Regions from separate parts of the Homo sapiens genome. Here region 2 is linked to region 1. The links come from fine-mapping of genetic effects on gene expression. Tissue or cell type: tibial nerve. Region 1 holds a variant in brackets; the other region holds the start of a gene. All regions are shown on one strand. Distances are between the middles of the regions.

Region 1 (8,000 bases):
GCTAAAAGTTAAATGGCAAACAATAAATATACTTTATTTACAAATAAAAGATTTCATATTTGTATTCCTTGGGTAAGATTTCAAGAATATAAAAAGTCTTTGTAATAGAACACATCCCATTTATTTTAGTTAAATTTTAGAAAAAACTTCCTTGTAAATTACATTGTGTTTTAACTATTTTTGTTATATGTGATTAACATTATCCTACACTGGATATCATCATTTACCTTTCAATTCACCCAGACTCAAAAATTCACATCTCTTAGAAGTAAACTTCGAAATGGCATTTCAATATTAAAAGAGGCTCCCCAAGTCCCCATGTATCCTCACAAATGTGTCCAAGTGCGTTTCAAAAGAAAGAAACATGATATTACTAATATGCGTAAGTTCTAAAGCACCACCATGTTGATCTGAATAATAGTGTAAGTTTCCACCTTAAGCTTGGCAGGAAATGTTTGATTTCTTTCTGCTCAGTGAAGCTATTTAATCAGCACTGGCAGTATTAGGTAACAAAGTAGGGTCAGAGAGCCCACTAGTTTAGGCTTTAGCTTCTGTGACAGATCTTGGAGGTAAGATATAAGAAGAGACCTTTTAAGGTCATTTACTTATAGATAAAAATCTTTATTACATTTGAGCTGAACAATTAAATCACTAGGTATAAGGCATTATCCCCAAATTTGCATACATCTTTCCATCTAATTCTGTATCTCCCTGTCCATCTTAACATTTTCTTTATTAAAGACTACTCCTGTAGTCAGGAGCCTAATAAACTAATGCTATCACCACATACAGATTTTAGGTTGGTGCACACTGAAGAAAATGTTTTATTAATAATGTATCACAAGGTTGCTTTGCTGCAATTGACCACTGACAGTTAAGAACTGGCACTGCCAAGTGTCCTAGGTGTCTTAGAAGAATTACTTCTTCAAGAGATAATTTTTTTTTCAATCTTAAACTTTTAAAATTAGTCTATGCAGTTGACTATTAGCTGCTGAATGCTTCTGCCTGGTAATGGCTATAATTAGTATATTTATATTGGTTCTGTCCTTAAAATGAGGTTTTATGAATTTGTAAAAGGTAAATGAAAAGAGCACTTGTGCAATACTACTGTGCAAAGCACTGATGGTTAAGAAGGTCTAAAGAATACTCTCCCCTTATACTTGATCCAAATAAGACTATTATTTCAGTATTAGGACCTTTAACTCTACTAAAAAAAATAGAAACACAAACAAAATTTGGTTAATCCTGAGTGACTAATTGTAATTACTCACAAATTCTCTTGAGTTTAGATACAAGGGAGATTTTATTCTCCAATATGACTATTAGAGGATAAAATCAACAAACAATCTACTTAAGGATTTGATTTCTCTGTTAATTTTGTAAAGTCATGACAGTCAACGCTTCCTTATCTGTATTAGAACAGCATATTAATAATAAGAATTCTAAGGAACTATTAGACAATAATACTAAATCTTTCTTAGTATTATAAAAACAAAATCACAAATAAAAGGCATTAAAATCTGGATTAAAATTTCTGATGTTTTTATTGTTATAATAAGAAAATGGTCCAATAATATGAGGCAAGATGTTTTATTTTTCTTTTGCATACAACTTAATGTTTAACATAGGCTAAATAAATAAACCATAGTCTCACATATTTCTTTATGGAGCTATTAAAGAAGTATACTACAAATATATTACACTTCAAAATCCAGTATTTCCATAAAACCTTTTCTCGTTCAGTCAACAAATATACACTGAACACCTATAAAAACTAATGAACTTAATATAGGTTTTCCCTATCCCCAGCATCTATATGTCCAGAAAGCTTAACTTTTATGAATGTCCTTTATGAAACAAATATACGTATATATGTAAATGACAAATAACCTATTAAAAATATGTTATCAAGTAGGTATAGACTCAGTATAATCTCTTAATTGCTATCTTTAAAATAATATGTAACAATTAATTTCTGAAACATTAAGCCTCTGAACCATTGAAAGTAATAAAATCTAAATTATGTTAGCATTTGATAATCCTTACAATTTGATAAATATTGCAAGGCTCACCTTTTTCTTTCTACAGACCCACACTGGAAAGGGAGATAGGATGGAAGTCATATATACATAAATAAATCATATGTGAATATTTTTTATTCTTAGAAAAATACACTGTCTGCAAAAATTAATAATACAACATTACAGTTACTAAATCAAGAAGTAACACATAAGCAAATAAACTTCAACTACATAACATGGCCACTTAATGGTAGTAGGAAATGATAGTAGGGAACTGCTGAAAGAGGTTAGAGAAAGAATAACAAAGAGAAATAAGAAAGGAGGGAGGGAGAGAGGAAAGGAAAGAGGGAGGTGGAGAGAGCAAAGAAAGAGAGGGAGAAAATAGAAAAAGATAAGTAAGAAAAACAAAAATGTCTTTTAAATCTAATGTTCTACTTATTAAAATGTTCACTATGTCTCCCAAAAGATTATTTCAGCTTGCTATTGATATTCATCTATAAGTTTGTTATTATTCGATTCTAAAATAGGAGACTGACTGCAAATTTGATCAATTAACAAATTGCTGCTATTATTAGTGCTAAAGTTTACACTATATACTATCTCAAATCCTAGAATAGTATAAAAATAAACATATTTTTACCTACAAAAAGAAAGTGACAAAAGTACAGTATGGGGACATAAGTATAGGAAGGAAATATTTGCAAGAAAGGATGAAAAATACTTTCAAAATTGTTACCACACTGTTATTTTTTTGGCCCATATATAAACTAATCATATATGCATTAGAAAAAAACTCTGATCTAACCAGAAATAAATTACTATACCAATGAAATGAAAGCTAAAATATCTTTTCAGATAGTCTTTATTCACAATAATTAAAATGGAAGCACCAAAACAGATACTTAACTGTACCATTACAAAATCACTCCCTTAGAAACAATTTTACTGCTTTTCTTTAACTTACACATTCCTTCCTCTCAGATATGAGAGTTCTGACTC[T/C]GTAAAACATTTGGTCCAGATAGTCAAGGTCTACATTTATTTTTCACAATTAGAGTTGCTCATAGGTTTTAAGTAAGACAGGTTTCTCTGATGCTCTGATTAAATTAAAATCTTAACTTTTTAATCTATTTTATTAAGCTATATCAATTAGAATATATTTTGTTAGAATATATTTAAGCAATCTGTACATTTACTTCTACCTAGCCCCAAGATCTAGGACAAGATCTAAAAAAGTATTTCTGTTAATGTTTAGATTATCATGATTCTCAAAACTGCTTGATAAGAAGAGAACAAAGATAATCAACAAAATCAAAAGTTTATTTTATAAATAAGCCATGCCTGAAAGTAGCAATGAAAAATAAATTGTCACATAAAATTATATTTACTTTTATTTCAAGTGTTTGAAATTTCCATTCTTTTTTTTTTTTTTTTTTTTTTTTTGAGACAGAAGTTCACTCTTTGTTGCCCAGGCTGGAGCACAGTGGTGTGATCTCGGCTAACTGCAACCTCTGCCTCCCCGGTTCAAGATTCTCCTGTCTCAGCCTCCCGAGTAGCTGGGATTACAGGTGCCTGCCACCATGCCCGGCTAATTTTTGTATTTTTAGAGAGATGGGATTTCACTATGTTGGCCAGGCTGGTCTCGAACTCCTGACCTCAGGTGATCCGCCCACCTCAGCCTCCCAAAGCACTGGGATTACAGGCGTGAGCCACCACGCCTGGCCTGAAATTTCCATTCATTTCTTTCAAAAAAATAAATTTAATACTTATCATAGGATACAGAATTATATAATGCTATTGACAAATAGCAAAATCACTACTCATCATTAGTTTTTATTTACTAAGTATCACATGACCTAAGGTAGTATTTGATAACTCCATGATAAAATCTATTTAGTGAGTTATTACTAGCATTTAAAAAAAAAAAGAAATATGATAAAAAATATCAGAGTGCAGTAAGAAAAACGTTTTCTGAAACTTTTGTTTCAGTAGTGTTTATGTTCATAAACATATACATGTGTTTATTTAGTCATGCTTTAAAAAGTATTTTTAATATGAAATACCACGATAAAGTAAATAAATATTATTATTATTGATATACCAATACTGGAAAGGGAAATAAGTTACTCTGGGAATCCTAAGTATATTAATAATGTTTTCTGTATAAGTTTAATGAAATTATTTTTAATGTAGCTAGTGTTCCTGCCCATTCCCTACCTCCAGTTTGTACGTTTACGTTCTAATCATAGTCTCAATTACCAGATTTCAAAGCCAGGTAAGTATAATTTTGTAAAGAAAACAATGGGATAAGGTTAAAGCCTAGACATTTCCTATTAATATACTCTTACCTGTTGGTAATCCTTTTCCTCGCAATCGATCTCGAATAGCCTGGCTTCGATCAGGCTTTTGTTCACTGTTACAGGAAAGCTGATCTGTCTGTACACAGGTAATAAAAAATCAAGTTTGACAAAAGGATCTCCCTTTTGTTTTCATGGTAACTGTTTACAGAATGACACTAGTTACACAGTTTTTGGAGGATGTAACATTAAATAATGAGACTCTATGTCCTATTGTATTTGTAGGGTAATTTGTATTCTTGGATAAGATTTATGTAGACCAGTGCTGGCCAATTCATTTCAGAAAATTAAAAGGGAAGAAGCAGTGACTGAAGAGTAACCTACTAACTAGAAAATACCATCAGATTAAACTTGTTAAAATGAGTTCTATTTGAAAACAGTAAACTTGAAGTCTTCTTTTTTCCCCAACCACTAACTACTCTTAAGTTAGTTTATAATTTAAAAACCACATTAATTTTGGTATAATAAAGCTTTCTCTTGATTATAACTATGAATTGAGGAATTTAAATTACTTTCAGAAATAATTTTATAGATCTTGCCCTTCAGAAATTACATTTGTGAAATGCTAAGTCTTTTTTTTTTTTTTTTTTTTTTAAATATAACGGAGTCTCACTCTGTCACCCAGGTTGGAGGACCTCGGTTCACTGCAACCTCTGCCTCCCAGGTTCAAGCGATTCTCATGCCTTAGCCTCCAGAGTAGCTGGGACTACTGGTGCATACCACCACACCAGCTAATTTTTGTATTTTAAGTAGAGACAGGGTTTCACCATGTTGGCCAGGCTGGTCTTGAACTCCTGACATCAAGTGATCTGCCTGCCTTGGCCTCCCAAAGTGCTGGGATTACAGGCGTGATCCACTATGCCTGGCCGAGAAATGCTAAGTCTTTAAATGGACGCTCTGAGGGATAACAAATTTAAATCAATGCTCTTTTAAGTTCCCTTTAAAACAAAATGTAATCTTAAAGTTTAATAGCTTTAGCAAAGGGTATCTGCTTGAAATAAAGTATGTCAAATTAGGTCAAACTCCACACTATAAGGGATAAAAAACTGGACAGACCACTGTTTTATTCAGGTGGCCAAATAGAGGAGAAATGTCAATATAAATGGAAGAAGAGAGAATGGTGAAGAGAAATTACTTAAATCTAGCACCAAAAGCATGCATACATATTTGTTTACACACACACAAACTCGCACATACCACAGAAATGTTTTAATATTGCTCCATTAGTGAATTTTGCTGAAGTATGGATTAAAAACCCATCTAAGGTGGTATATTCAAGGCTCAAGCATTATGTTTTCTACCTATAAGAAGACTTGTAAATGGAAGTATTTCTGAAATCATGTTATCAGTTAAGTTGCATAAATGATGTTAGTCCAGATTACACTGTACTGTCAGTGACTGAAAAGACAGTATTACTAACATCCCACATCTTTGAAAATTCCTGCATTGAAGTTAGTTACTATTAATAACTGTTGTTTATTGAACAGTTACTATATGCTAGGCACACACTTTGTGCTATTTAATCCTCAAACAACCTCATATGGTAGACAATATTATCCTCATATTATAAATAAAGGGAGAAATAGCAAAGAAACTTCTAAGGACCACAAAGCAGCTCATTAATGTGGAAATAACTACTTTTACAACAGTTTAATAATATGGATGATTGACACATATTATTATTATTCCTATTTTGCAGATAAGTAAAATTGTGGTCCAAATATTATAACATTAAATCAGTGGAAAAACCTAGACAAGTAAGCTGGCTTGCTGACTTTTACTCACGCTAATTAATGTTAAGTAAGAATGATGGTCACTCAGAATGAATTTCACACCAGTGAAAGACTAACTCATTCTGTCAGCTACTGGAGGCAACAAAAGCTTTAAGGAATATACTGGGGTCAAAAACACCCCAGTTCCAATTATGTCTCCATCATTTACCGTATCTGTGACTATGTGCAAGTTATTTAATCTTTCTTAGCCTTAGTTTTATGCCCTCTAAAATGAGGATAAAAGTATCTCTATTAAATTGAGGTTGTTATGATGAATAATGTGATAATGCACATCAACCCCTTAGCATAGTGTCTGGCACAAAGTAAACAAACACTTAAAAAACAGTAGCTGTTGGAGTTACTTCTACCCAGTGATGTCTAGGAGATGAGGAAGAGCAATAGAAAGGTAAGGGGAGCATTATTATACTTAGTAAAAATTTGTCTTTGTGAAGAGAGGCTCTCTACATGCTGATTCCAACTGATCCTTCTATTTTTCTCTCCCATTAAATAACCCCACAATACACCCCATGTCATACTGTTCCCCAAACATTCCTGCTTTCCCATTTCACAGCCTTTATCCAGGTTCACTTCCCTCTGCCGAGATTATCTAGCCTATAGGATACAGTTCGAAGTGCTATTTTTAATTTTAACTTTTTTTTTTTTTTTTGAGGTAGGGCCTTACTCTGTTGCCTAGGTTGGACTGCAGTGGTGCAATCATGCCTCACTACAGCCTCGACCTCCCAGGCTCAAGTAGTCCTCCCATCTCAGCCTCCTGAGTAGCTGGGACTAAAGGCATGCATCACCATGCTCAGCTTCAAAGTGCTATTTTTCAATGCAGTCATAATTTGTATCCTTTTCCTTTAAACTCTCATAGCTGTTAAAATTTTTACTATGTATCATTTTATAGCCTTCTTTCATTTTATAATTAAGCAAATGGTTATGGCATTTTAGATAAGAGCTCCTAGATCAAATATTTTATTCAAATTTGTATCTTCTATAATCCCTAGCACAGGTTTCATACATAAATGAACAATAAAGATCCACTATAATAAAGAGAACTAAATGCTAAACCTTAAAGGGATGAAGATTTTATATGTAATATGGGCAATTATTAGATAGGTAATATAATTTCTATGGTGACAGAAAAAAAATTCTTCATTCAAAGACAGAAAAAAATATCTCTCACAATTTTACTATAGGAGTAAAATTAGCAAGCAGCACAAAAGTCTTAGAGAAAGTGTGGTGTAATAAAAAAGTCCCTGGACTGTCTAATAGGAAACTCAAATCCCATAGTTGTTTGGGTATCAGTTTCCTTATCCATAAAGTGAAGTTTTAAAGAATATTAGTCTTATGAGAATGTCTGAAAAAAAGACCTCCAAGACCAAGAAAGTTTGGGAAATGCTTTATTTACATGCCTATTCTTCTTGAAGGTTAGTAATATAGTCTAGTATATTAAAGGTTCTAAGAAGTTCTCCAGTGAAAATACATTTAATTTCCTTTAAATAGTTTCTTCTCAAGCTTATTTGGTCATAGAGGAATTTTTAAAACAAAAATATTGAAAACAATATGAGAAACTTTGGTCTGGACAGATGGTTTTCAAAGATTTTTTAATAGCTTTACCTTTGTTCAAAAAAATCACACGCAGAAATATAAACAGATCAAATAAAACTGGAGCTGCTCTAGTTAAAGAGGGAAAATGGGCAACCAAGAACTCCATTTATTCGGCCTCTACTTCCTACATTTCCCTTCACTATAGAACCGCAAAGGTTTCTTGAGGGAGAGTTTACAAACCATTTGTCTAGAAGATCTGTGGGCCTGTTTGTTATCAACTGAAAAACTGTGCAGAATTTGAA
Region 2 (8,148 bases), 730 kb before region 1:
ATCGCTTGAACCCTGGAGGCACAAGTTGCAGAGAGCCAAGATTACACCACTGCACACCAGCTGGGGCGACAGTGCGAGACTCTGTCTCAAAAAAAAAAAAGGAAATAAGAACATTAAGACCCAGAGAGGTAAATAAGTTTACCAAGGTCACACAATTGAGAGTAGAAATCAGGATCCAAACCTAGGCAAGCTGTCTTAGAATTCCAGGCTCTTAACACTATGTTTTACTATCTCTATTTCATTTTTGGTTCATTCATATGTTTTATGCATTCACAGGAATAAAACAATATTCTACACACATCACCAGTAGATCCTTCTGGAAGATTTGTATGTTGTGGTATGTAAAAGCATTCACTACATCTTTGTAATATACTACCTTTTTTCTAGAAAATGTACATTTGATGACTGGGAGCAGTGTCTCACACCTACAATCCCAGAACTTTAGGAGGCCAAGGCAGGAGGATCACTTGAGCCCAATAGTTTGAGACCAGCCTGGGCAACATAGGGAGACCCATCTCTACAAACAATAAATAAATTTTTAATTAGCCAGGCCTGGTAGTGCGCACCGGTAGTACCAGATACTCAGGATGCTGAGCTGGGACAATCACTGAGCCCAGGAGGTTGAGACTGCAGTGAGTCATGATCACACCACTGCACTCCAGCCTAGGTGACAGAGCAATTAAAAAAGAAAATGAACATTGGAAACCTTCTAGTAATCACAAAAACTAAGTGCAAAACTGTCACTTTCTGGGTTTTTCCAAATTATCAAAGACTGGTAAAATTCTTTTTTTTTTTTTTTTTTTCAAAGAGACAGGGTCTTGGCCAGGCGTGGGGGCTCACACCTGTATTCACCAGCACTTTGAGAGGCCAAGGCAGACAGATTGCCTGAGGTCAGGAGTTCGAAACCAGCCTGGCCAAAATGGTAAAACCCCATCTCTACTAAAAATATAAAACTTAGCCAGGCATGGTGATGGGCGCCTGTAATCCTAGCTACTAGGGAGGCTGGGGCAGGAGAATCACTAGAACCTGGGAGGCGGAGGTTGCAATGAGCCAAGATCACGCCACCGCACTCCAGCCTTGGCAACGAGAGCAAGACTCCATCTCAAAAAAAAAAAAAAAAAAAAGGAAAAGAACACTAGGGACACGGTCTTGCTGTGCCACTCAGGCTGGAATGCAGTGATGCGATCATAGCTTACCACAGCCTCAAACTCAACTCCTGAGCTCAAGCAATCCTACTGATCACTTAGTAGTCTCTGAGCCTACTCTGATCCTACTGATAGTGAGGACTACACATGCATGCCACCAGGCCCAGTTTTTTTTTTTTAGAGACAAGGGTCTTGCTAAGTTGCCTAGACTGGTCTCAAACTCCTGGCCTCACACGATCCTCCTGCCTCAGCCTTCCAAAGCACTGGGATTACAGGTGTTAGCCACTGTGCCTGGCCATAAAATTCTTTTTTTGTTTTTCTTGAGACATTGTATCACTCTGTCACCCAGAATGGAATGCAGTGGCATGATCTCAGCTCACTGCAACCTCCACCTCCCCGGTTCAAGCTATTCTGCCACATTAGTTACCAGGTACTTGGCACATTTGTTAACTGTTGGCTTTTTCTTTCAAGTCAGTACAGTCTCTGGTTCTGGATATACCTGCCTCATGTAGGGTTCCCAGAGTTACAAAAACGAAGAATAACTGTCAAGCAACTTTACACTGTTCTGCTGGCATCTAACAAAAAGAGCATTAGAGATTTCCAGAGAGCACACACGTGTATTCCTTCCTTCCTCAAATCCCACTAAAAGAAGATAAAGATAGATAAAGGGAAATAAAATCCGTACCAGGAGAAGGAATAAATGCCACCAGTGAATGACAGATGGTAACCAACTTCAGGAAAATGAAAAGTTGTTGGAATATTGACCTACAAACCAGAGTAGGACAAAGTAAAATAAGAATATGCACCAAGGCCGGGCGCGGTGGCTCACGCCTGTAATCCCAGCACTTTGGGAGGCCGAGACGGGCGGATCACGAGGTCAAGAGTTCAAGACCAGATCAGCCTAACCAAGATGGTGAAACCCTGTCTCTACTAAAAATACAAAAAAAATTAGCCGGGCGTGCGCGCGCCAGTAATCTCAGCTACTCAAGAGGCTGAGGCAGAAGAATCGCTTGAACCCAGGAGGCGGAAGTTGCAGTGAGCCGAGATCGCGCCACTGCGCTCCAGCCTGGGCGACAGAGCGAAACTCCTTCTCAAAAAAAAAAAAAAAAAAAAAAACGCATTAGGGAGAAATGCTATTCCTACAAGCTGAGCCGAGCTAGAGGTTTCAAGCTTGAAGTCAGTGGGCCCAAGGATCATAAACTGGCAGCGCGACAATAACCATGGAAATCACTCAGTCCTCCTCCCTCCCCAATCTCCAAGCAAAAAGTCCAAAATAGTTATGTTTGTCTCCAAGATAAAATCAAAAGTTTTTTAGAAATGAAGGGGTAGGACCCCTACTGTGAATACTGGTGTTAAGAGTACACAGCAGAAACTTAGGCTTAATAATTTTACAGTTCACACGGAGGAAATAAACAGCTATACTCAGCAGAGAAGTTGCTCCACCACTACTGCAAAGCCTGAAGCAAAAGGCAGGTTCCCAGTCTACCCATCTGGTACCTGCTCACATGCCCTCAACTGAAACCTTCCTATCTAGGCAACCTGGTACAGAGCCAAAAGTCAATTAGCGACCCATGTACTGAAAACAAGACCTATTACTCATATTAATCAAAATATAGACAGATAACCAGTGCCCATCACATGTTCGAGAAAAAGCAACAGAAGGAAACAGGACCAAAAAGACACAGAACAATTGACCAACAGTAAGTAAATTATTTAGGAAATAGATTTTTCTAATTATCATCTTTGTAGATTCAAGACTTTTAATATCTATAAAATAAGAAAAGGCTGCTGCACCTAGGACCCTGTGTTTACTAACTCAAAGAATAAAAACTGGAGAAGGGAAGAACAGAAGGAGGCAGTGTAAGACACCATAAATCCCTAAATTTAACCACAATAGACAAATTATTAAAAAAAAGGAGGTAGATAGTAAATATAATATATTGTCCACCCTGGAAAGGGGACAGGGGGAATAGTGATTTTACTTTTCATTTTACATTTTCAAGTTGTTTTAACTATGTACATGTATTAATACTAATAATAATGTTTTAAGTATTAACCATAAAAAAATGGCACGGGACACCACCACCCCAAACAATTGCTATTTAAACTCTCTCGTGATACTAACAATGATTTACAGAGAATGGCAAATTTCAAAATCAGAAGTCAAGAAGGGTCCCTGCCACTCGTTTTCCTCAAAAGGCAGATAAAATATTTTAGAGCCTTTTTGAAAACTTGTATATGACTATAAAAACCCGAGAGGCAAAGCAAAGCCTACAGAATACGCCAGAAAAAAAAGCTGCTTCCCACCCCCAACTCAAGGTCTAGGGCAAAGGAGCCGGTAGTAGGAGGGTGGAATACCTGAACGCCTGGATGCCGCGGCAGCGCGAGGACCTGATAGTCACAGAGGCCAAGGCCAGAGAGAGAGACACCGCGGCTAAAGCCTTTCCCAGGAGGCGTCCCGCCATGAGCGCCCCGAGGGCGGCTTTGCGATGCTAGGTCGCTCTTAGTTGGTGCCTCCGCCTCCCCACACCCCACAGCTCCGAGTCCCGGCCGCGGGTATCTGATGGGCACTAGGACCTGTCTGCCGTTGGGTTCCCGAACGGGAGTAGCTGTGCCTATCTATAAATCACAGATCAAGAGCCCTCCCACGATAAGAGTCCACCGCTTTCCCCAGTGCATCGAGAAAAATCCAGACCAGCACGTGACGCCGAAGCCTCCAGCGCCAGCTGCCTGGGGAAACCGCGGCCACGAACCTCGTAACTTTCTCTCTGCGTAATGGCGCTTTACGGCCGCGCCGCAAAGCAAAGGTCGTGCGTTGCCGGCTTGGTAGCGCCTTCCTTCTCCGACTTCCCAGACTTCCCAGTCTGCGCAGGCTTACTTGGGGACGCAGGGAACTACCAAGAAAGTGTCAGAGGAAAGGAAAGGTGAAACAGACGAGGAACTGGAACGGGAATAAGTGGGAAAGAAGCCAAGGGGTTTGAGAGAGACTTGCTGCCCTGGGTTTTTGGTTTTTGTTTTTTGAGACAAGAGTCTGGCTCTGTCGCCCAGGCTGCAGTGCAGGGGCGCGATTTCAGCTCATTGCCGCCTCAACCTCCTGGGCTTAAGCGAGTCTCTTGTCTCAGCCCCCGACGTAGCTGGGACTACAGGCACACACCGCCATACCTGGCTAATTTTTGTATGTTTTGTAGCGACAGATTTTTGCCATGTTGCCCAGGCTGGTCTCCAACTCTCAAGCTCAAATAATCCAACTGTTTGGGCCTCCCACAGTGCTGAGGTTACAGGCCTCAGCCAACGCGCCTGGCCCTGCTCTGGTTTTTTTAGGGAGTAAGTTGTTGCGGAAGGACGCAGGTCTTAGCCATATTTTTGAATAATACTTCGTTATGGGAATGAAACCGCCTTTGCAAAATTATGACTGATTTGGGAGGCCGAGGCGGGATCACTTGCAGTCAGGAGTTCAAGACCAGCCTGGCCAACGTGGTGAAACCTCGTCTCTACTAAAAATACAAAAATTAGCTGGGCATGGTGGTAAACGCGCCTGTAGTCCCAGCTGCTCAGGAGGATGAAGCAGGAGAATCGCTTGAACCCGGGAGGTGGAGGTTGCAGTGAGCCAACGTCGCACCACTGCACTCCACCCTGGGCGACAAGAGTGAAACTACGTATCAAAAAAAAAAAGAAAAAACCTCTGCTCCCTGAATGCTCAGGGAGACTGATTTGAGTAATAATAGAACTCCGGTCTCACACAGCTGGCTCTGCATGAATTACTCTTTCTCTATTGCAATTCCCCTGTCTTGATGAATCAGCTCTGTCTAGGAAGCGGGAAAGGTGAACCCCTTGGGCGGTTACAGCAAGAGGAGATAGTCCAGAGACTCAGCCCTCGTATCTTGAAGGGTTTCTTGGTTTTTTGTTTTTGTTTTCTTAACCAAGTTGTCTGCTCCAATTGCTGGATTTCATTCACAAGGCTTTGCTAGGACCAGTTGTGGCCCTTGGAAACTCGTGGAGGAGAAAAGCTGTGAAAATAGGCACACATGCTGGAGGAGGAACAGAGGGCAACACACATAATACTGGATAATAAACTTGAGAGGCAAAAATTAAACAAACCGACAAACAAAGTTGGAAACCCAGACTGTCCAAAGCAGCTTGTAATCAGGCTTACTTCATTTATATTAGCTTATTGATGTGGCAACTATTTGACTTTTACTTACATGATCCGCTGTTTCTGTGGTGTGGTTCCAATACACCGACGTTACAAAACTTTGACCATCTTAAAAGCCAGATTAATCGAATTTTAACAACCATTGTTCTGAAAACTGCAGAACTCTCGACAGGTATTGACTGTTCAAACTACACTGTCAACCTAGACGCTGAGGCACGAGATAGAACTTAAAGCATTTACTTTAGCCAAAGTGAGGACAGCTGCCCAGAAGACCCAGACCCAAGTAACCTTAAATGTGAACTCCTGTCCACCTTTGTTACAATCAGGTTTTTAAAGGCAAAAAGGGGACAGGGAGTTGACTGATACAAAGTTGTAAAGAATTACTGGTTTGTAGAAATAGTATTGGTTAGTGGTTGGCTATACGTTAAGCTATAGGGTGCGAGTTACAGTGTCCAGTGTACCATTATTAGGTTAATTTTTAGCTACTTGTGGCTATAGTAAGCAGTTTAAAGAGATGAATGCATAACAAAGTGGGGAGTAGGATGTAATTGCTGTCTCATTTTAATGTCTCTCTGGGCCTGGTAATTTAAAAGGATTTACCTTCCTCATATAAAAGTTCTTTTCTCGGCACTGAGAGATTTGATTATACTCTAGCATAGCTTCCAGTAGCTTAAGGCCTTGTCCCTAGGCTGACCCCAGATCCCGTTAAAATGCTTCCCTGAAATCAAAACTCAATGCCTGGAGAATTTACTGTTTGTTCCAGCCAAAACTTGATGATAGGCAGATAGGTCCCTGAACCCCTTCTTAGAGCAGTCACTTTAGAAAGCTTGTTTCTCTACCCTTGGTGATGTAAGTCTACCACCCAACACAGTTTCCTCAAAGACTTGGGAGCCATCTCTTTGAAATGCAAATATTCAGAAAGATAACTCACCCTAGCTCCTAGTCCCTGTACAAGACCGGTACCTTGCTTTAGCTAGCACCACTGCCTCCTATCATAAAGATAGAAGTTTGTTTCTCCTCTGGATAAGAGCCAGTTAACAAACCCAAATGGCCTAATCACATCAATCAACAAACCACCGTGCCCCCCTGCCACCCCCCAAAACTTAAGATCCTTTTGTGCCTTTCCTTTTTGCATACCACAGCCTTTTGTTTCAGGGAAGTGTGGGATTAGTTTGTATTACACTCTTTTCCCTATTGGACTAGCATCACTGAATAAAGTCTGTCCTTACTGCTTTAACTAGTGTCCAGCTTTGTTTATTTTGACTGCTTTCTCAGGTTGAGAAGTACTATTATTGAAATGTGCATTTTAAAGATAAATATCAGTACTCGGCTTCCTCTGGTCAGATAAACTTTGCTCTCAGTGTTGTTAATCACTGCTTAAACTGGAAATGTATTAGACCGGCTCTGTTCATCAAGTTCAGCGTGTCCAAAGTCTGTTGACAAATTAGTCACTAGAGAAGACAGGAGAAAAGCAGTGAGTTACAAAGTCAACAATCAAAGAAAGGGAGCAACAGAAAGTAGTTCTCACAGGAAGCTCCTCAGACCCTAGTCTTATAACTCCATATTCCCTAAGGGGAGGCTAGCGTGAACTTAGTTTGATGAACCTGTGCAAACAACTGTACAAACAAAACCAATTCCATGGCACTGAAACAAAACTGCAATTAGCTGGGACAGCCAGATCTCCTGGGTTCCTCCCTTCAGGGATGCATACTGCACATCTGCTCAGGTGTAGTGAGTGCATGTTCTGCAACCTGCTCTTGGGTAGAAACAAAACATCTCCTCATCAAATTACCCACATCCTAAATTAGTTAAACAGATGTCATCAGAATTTAAGGAGAAGTAAGGACTTTTTAAAAATTTATGAAGCATATACCAACTTCAAGGGCATCTTGCAATAGTTGGTGAGACAGACCAAGAACACTGAGAAATGAGAATTTTTAAATAGGAAAGTGACATATGTGATTATTAGAATTGATGAGTATGTTAAAAGTAAGAGTAATTCAGAATCCCAACTATTTCCCTGATATAGTTTGGATATTTCTCCCCTCCAATCTCATGTTGAAATGTATTCCCCAGTGTTGGAGGTGAGGTCTGGTGGGAGGTGTTTGGGTCATGAGGGTGGATCCCTTGTGATAGTGCTATCCTTGTGATAGTGAGTTCATGCAAGATCTGGTTGTTTAAAGATGTATGACACCTTGTCCACCTCTTTCTTGCTCCCACTCTCGCCAAAATGTCAGCTCCCCTTTGCCTTCCACCATGATTGTAGGCTTTCTCAGGCCTCACCAGGAGCCAAGCAGATGCCCAGCACCATGCTTCCTGTACAGCCTGCAGAACCGTGAGCCAATTAAACCTCTTTTCTATTGGGGGAACTCACCCCCAATATTTCAACGTAGATTGTTTCTATTTTCCATAAGTGTCAGACAGCTGAGAAATAAAGAGAAAGAGTACAAAGAGAGGAATTTTACAGCTGGGCTGCCGGGGGTGACATCACATGTCGGTAGGACCATGATGCCCACCTGAGCCGCAAAACCAGCAAGTTTTTATTAAGGATTTCAAAAAGGGAGGGGGTGTATGAACAGGGAGTATGTCACAAAGATCACATGCTTCAAAGGGCAAAAGGCAGAACAAAGATCACATGCTTCTGAGGAAACAGGACAAGGGCAAAATCAGAACTCCTGTTAATGGTCTATGTTCAGCAGTGCACATATTGCCTTGATAAATATCTTAACAGAAAACAGGGTTCGAGAGCAGAGAACCAGTCTGACCAAAAATTCACCAGGAAGGAGTTTCCCAATCCTAGTAAGCCTGAGGATACTGCCAGAGACCAAGGCGTATCTCAGTCCTTATCTC

Evidence for each region. PIP is the estimated chance that this variant, and not a neighbour inherited with it, causes the effect.
Region 2: it holds the start of NUDT9, and the variant in region 1 is fine-mapped to the expression of NUDT9 in tibial nerve (GTEx, PIP 0.95).

What each region holds. Positions count from the first base shown.
Region 1 is chr4:86,690,041-86,698,040 of GRCh38, reverse strand. PTPN13 (protein tyrosine phosphatase non-receptor type 13) reads right to left here. Exons shown (of 48, transcript NM_080683.3): 6 at 4,367-4,454. Among named protein-coding and RNA genes, the nearest start is that of PTPN13, 100 kb to the right of the region's middle. The variant T/C (reference allele first, on the strand shown) is at 3,021.
Region 2 is chr4:87,418,368-87,426,515 of GRCh38, reverse strand. It overlaps NUDT9 (nudix hydrolase 9), which reads right to left and starts at 3,943. Exons shown (of 8, transcript NM_024047.5): 1 at 3,504-3,943. The coding sequence starts at 3,610. RefSeq lists enhancers at 1,572-2,073, 2,074-2,577, 3,121-4,055, 4,125-4,174.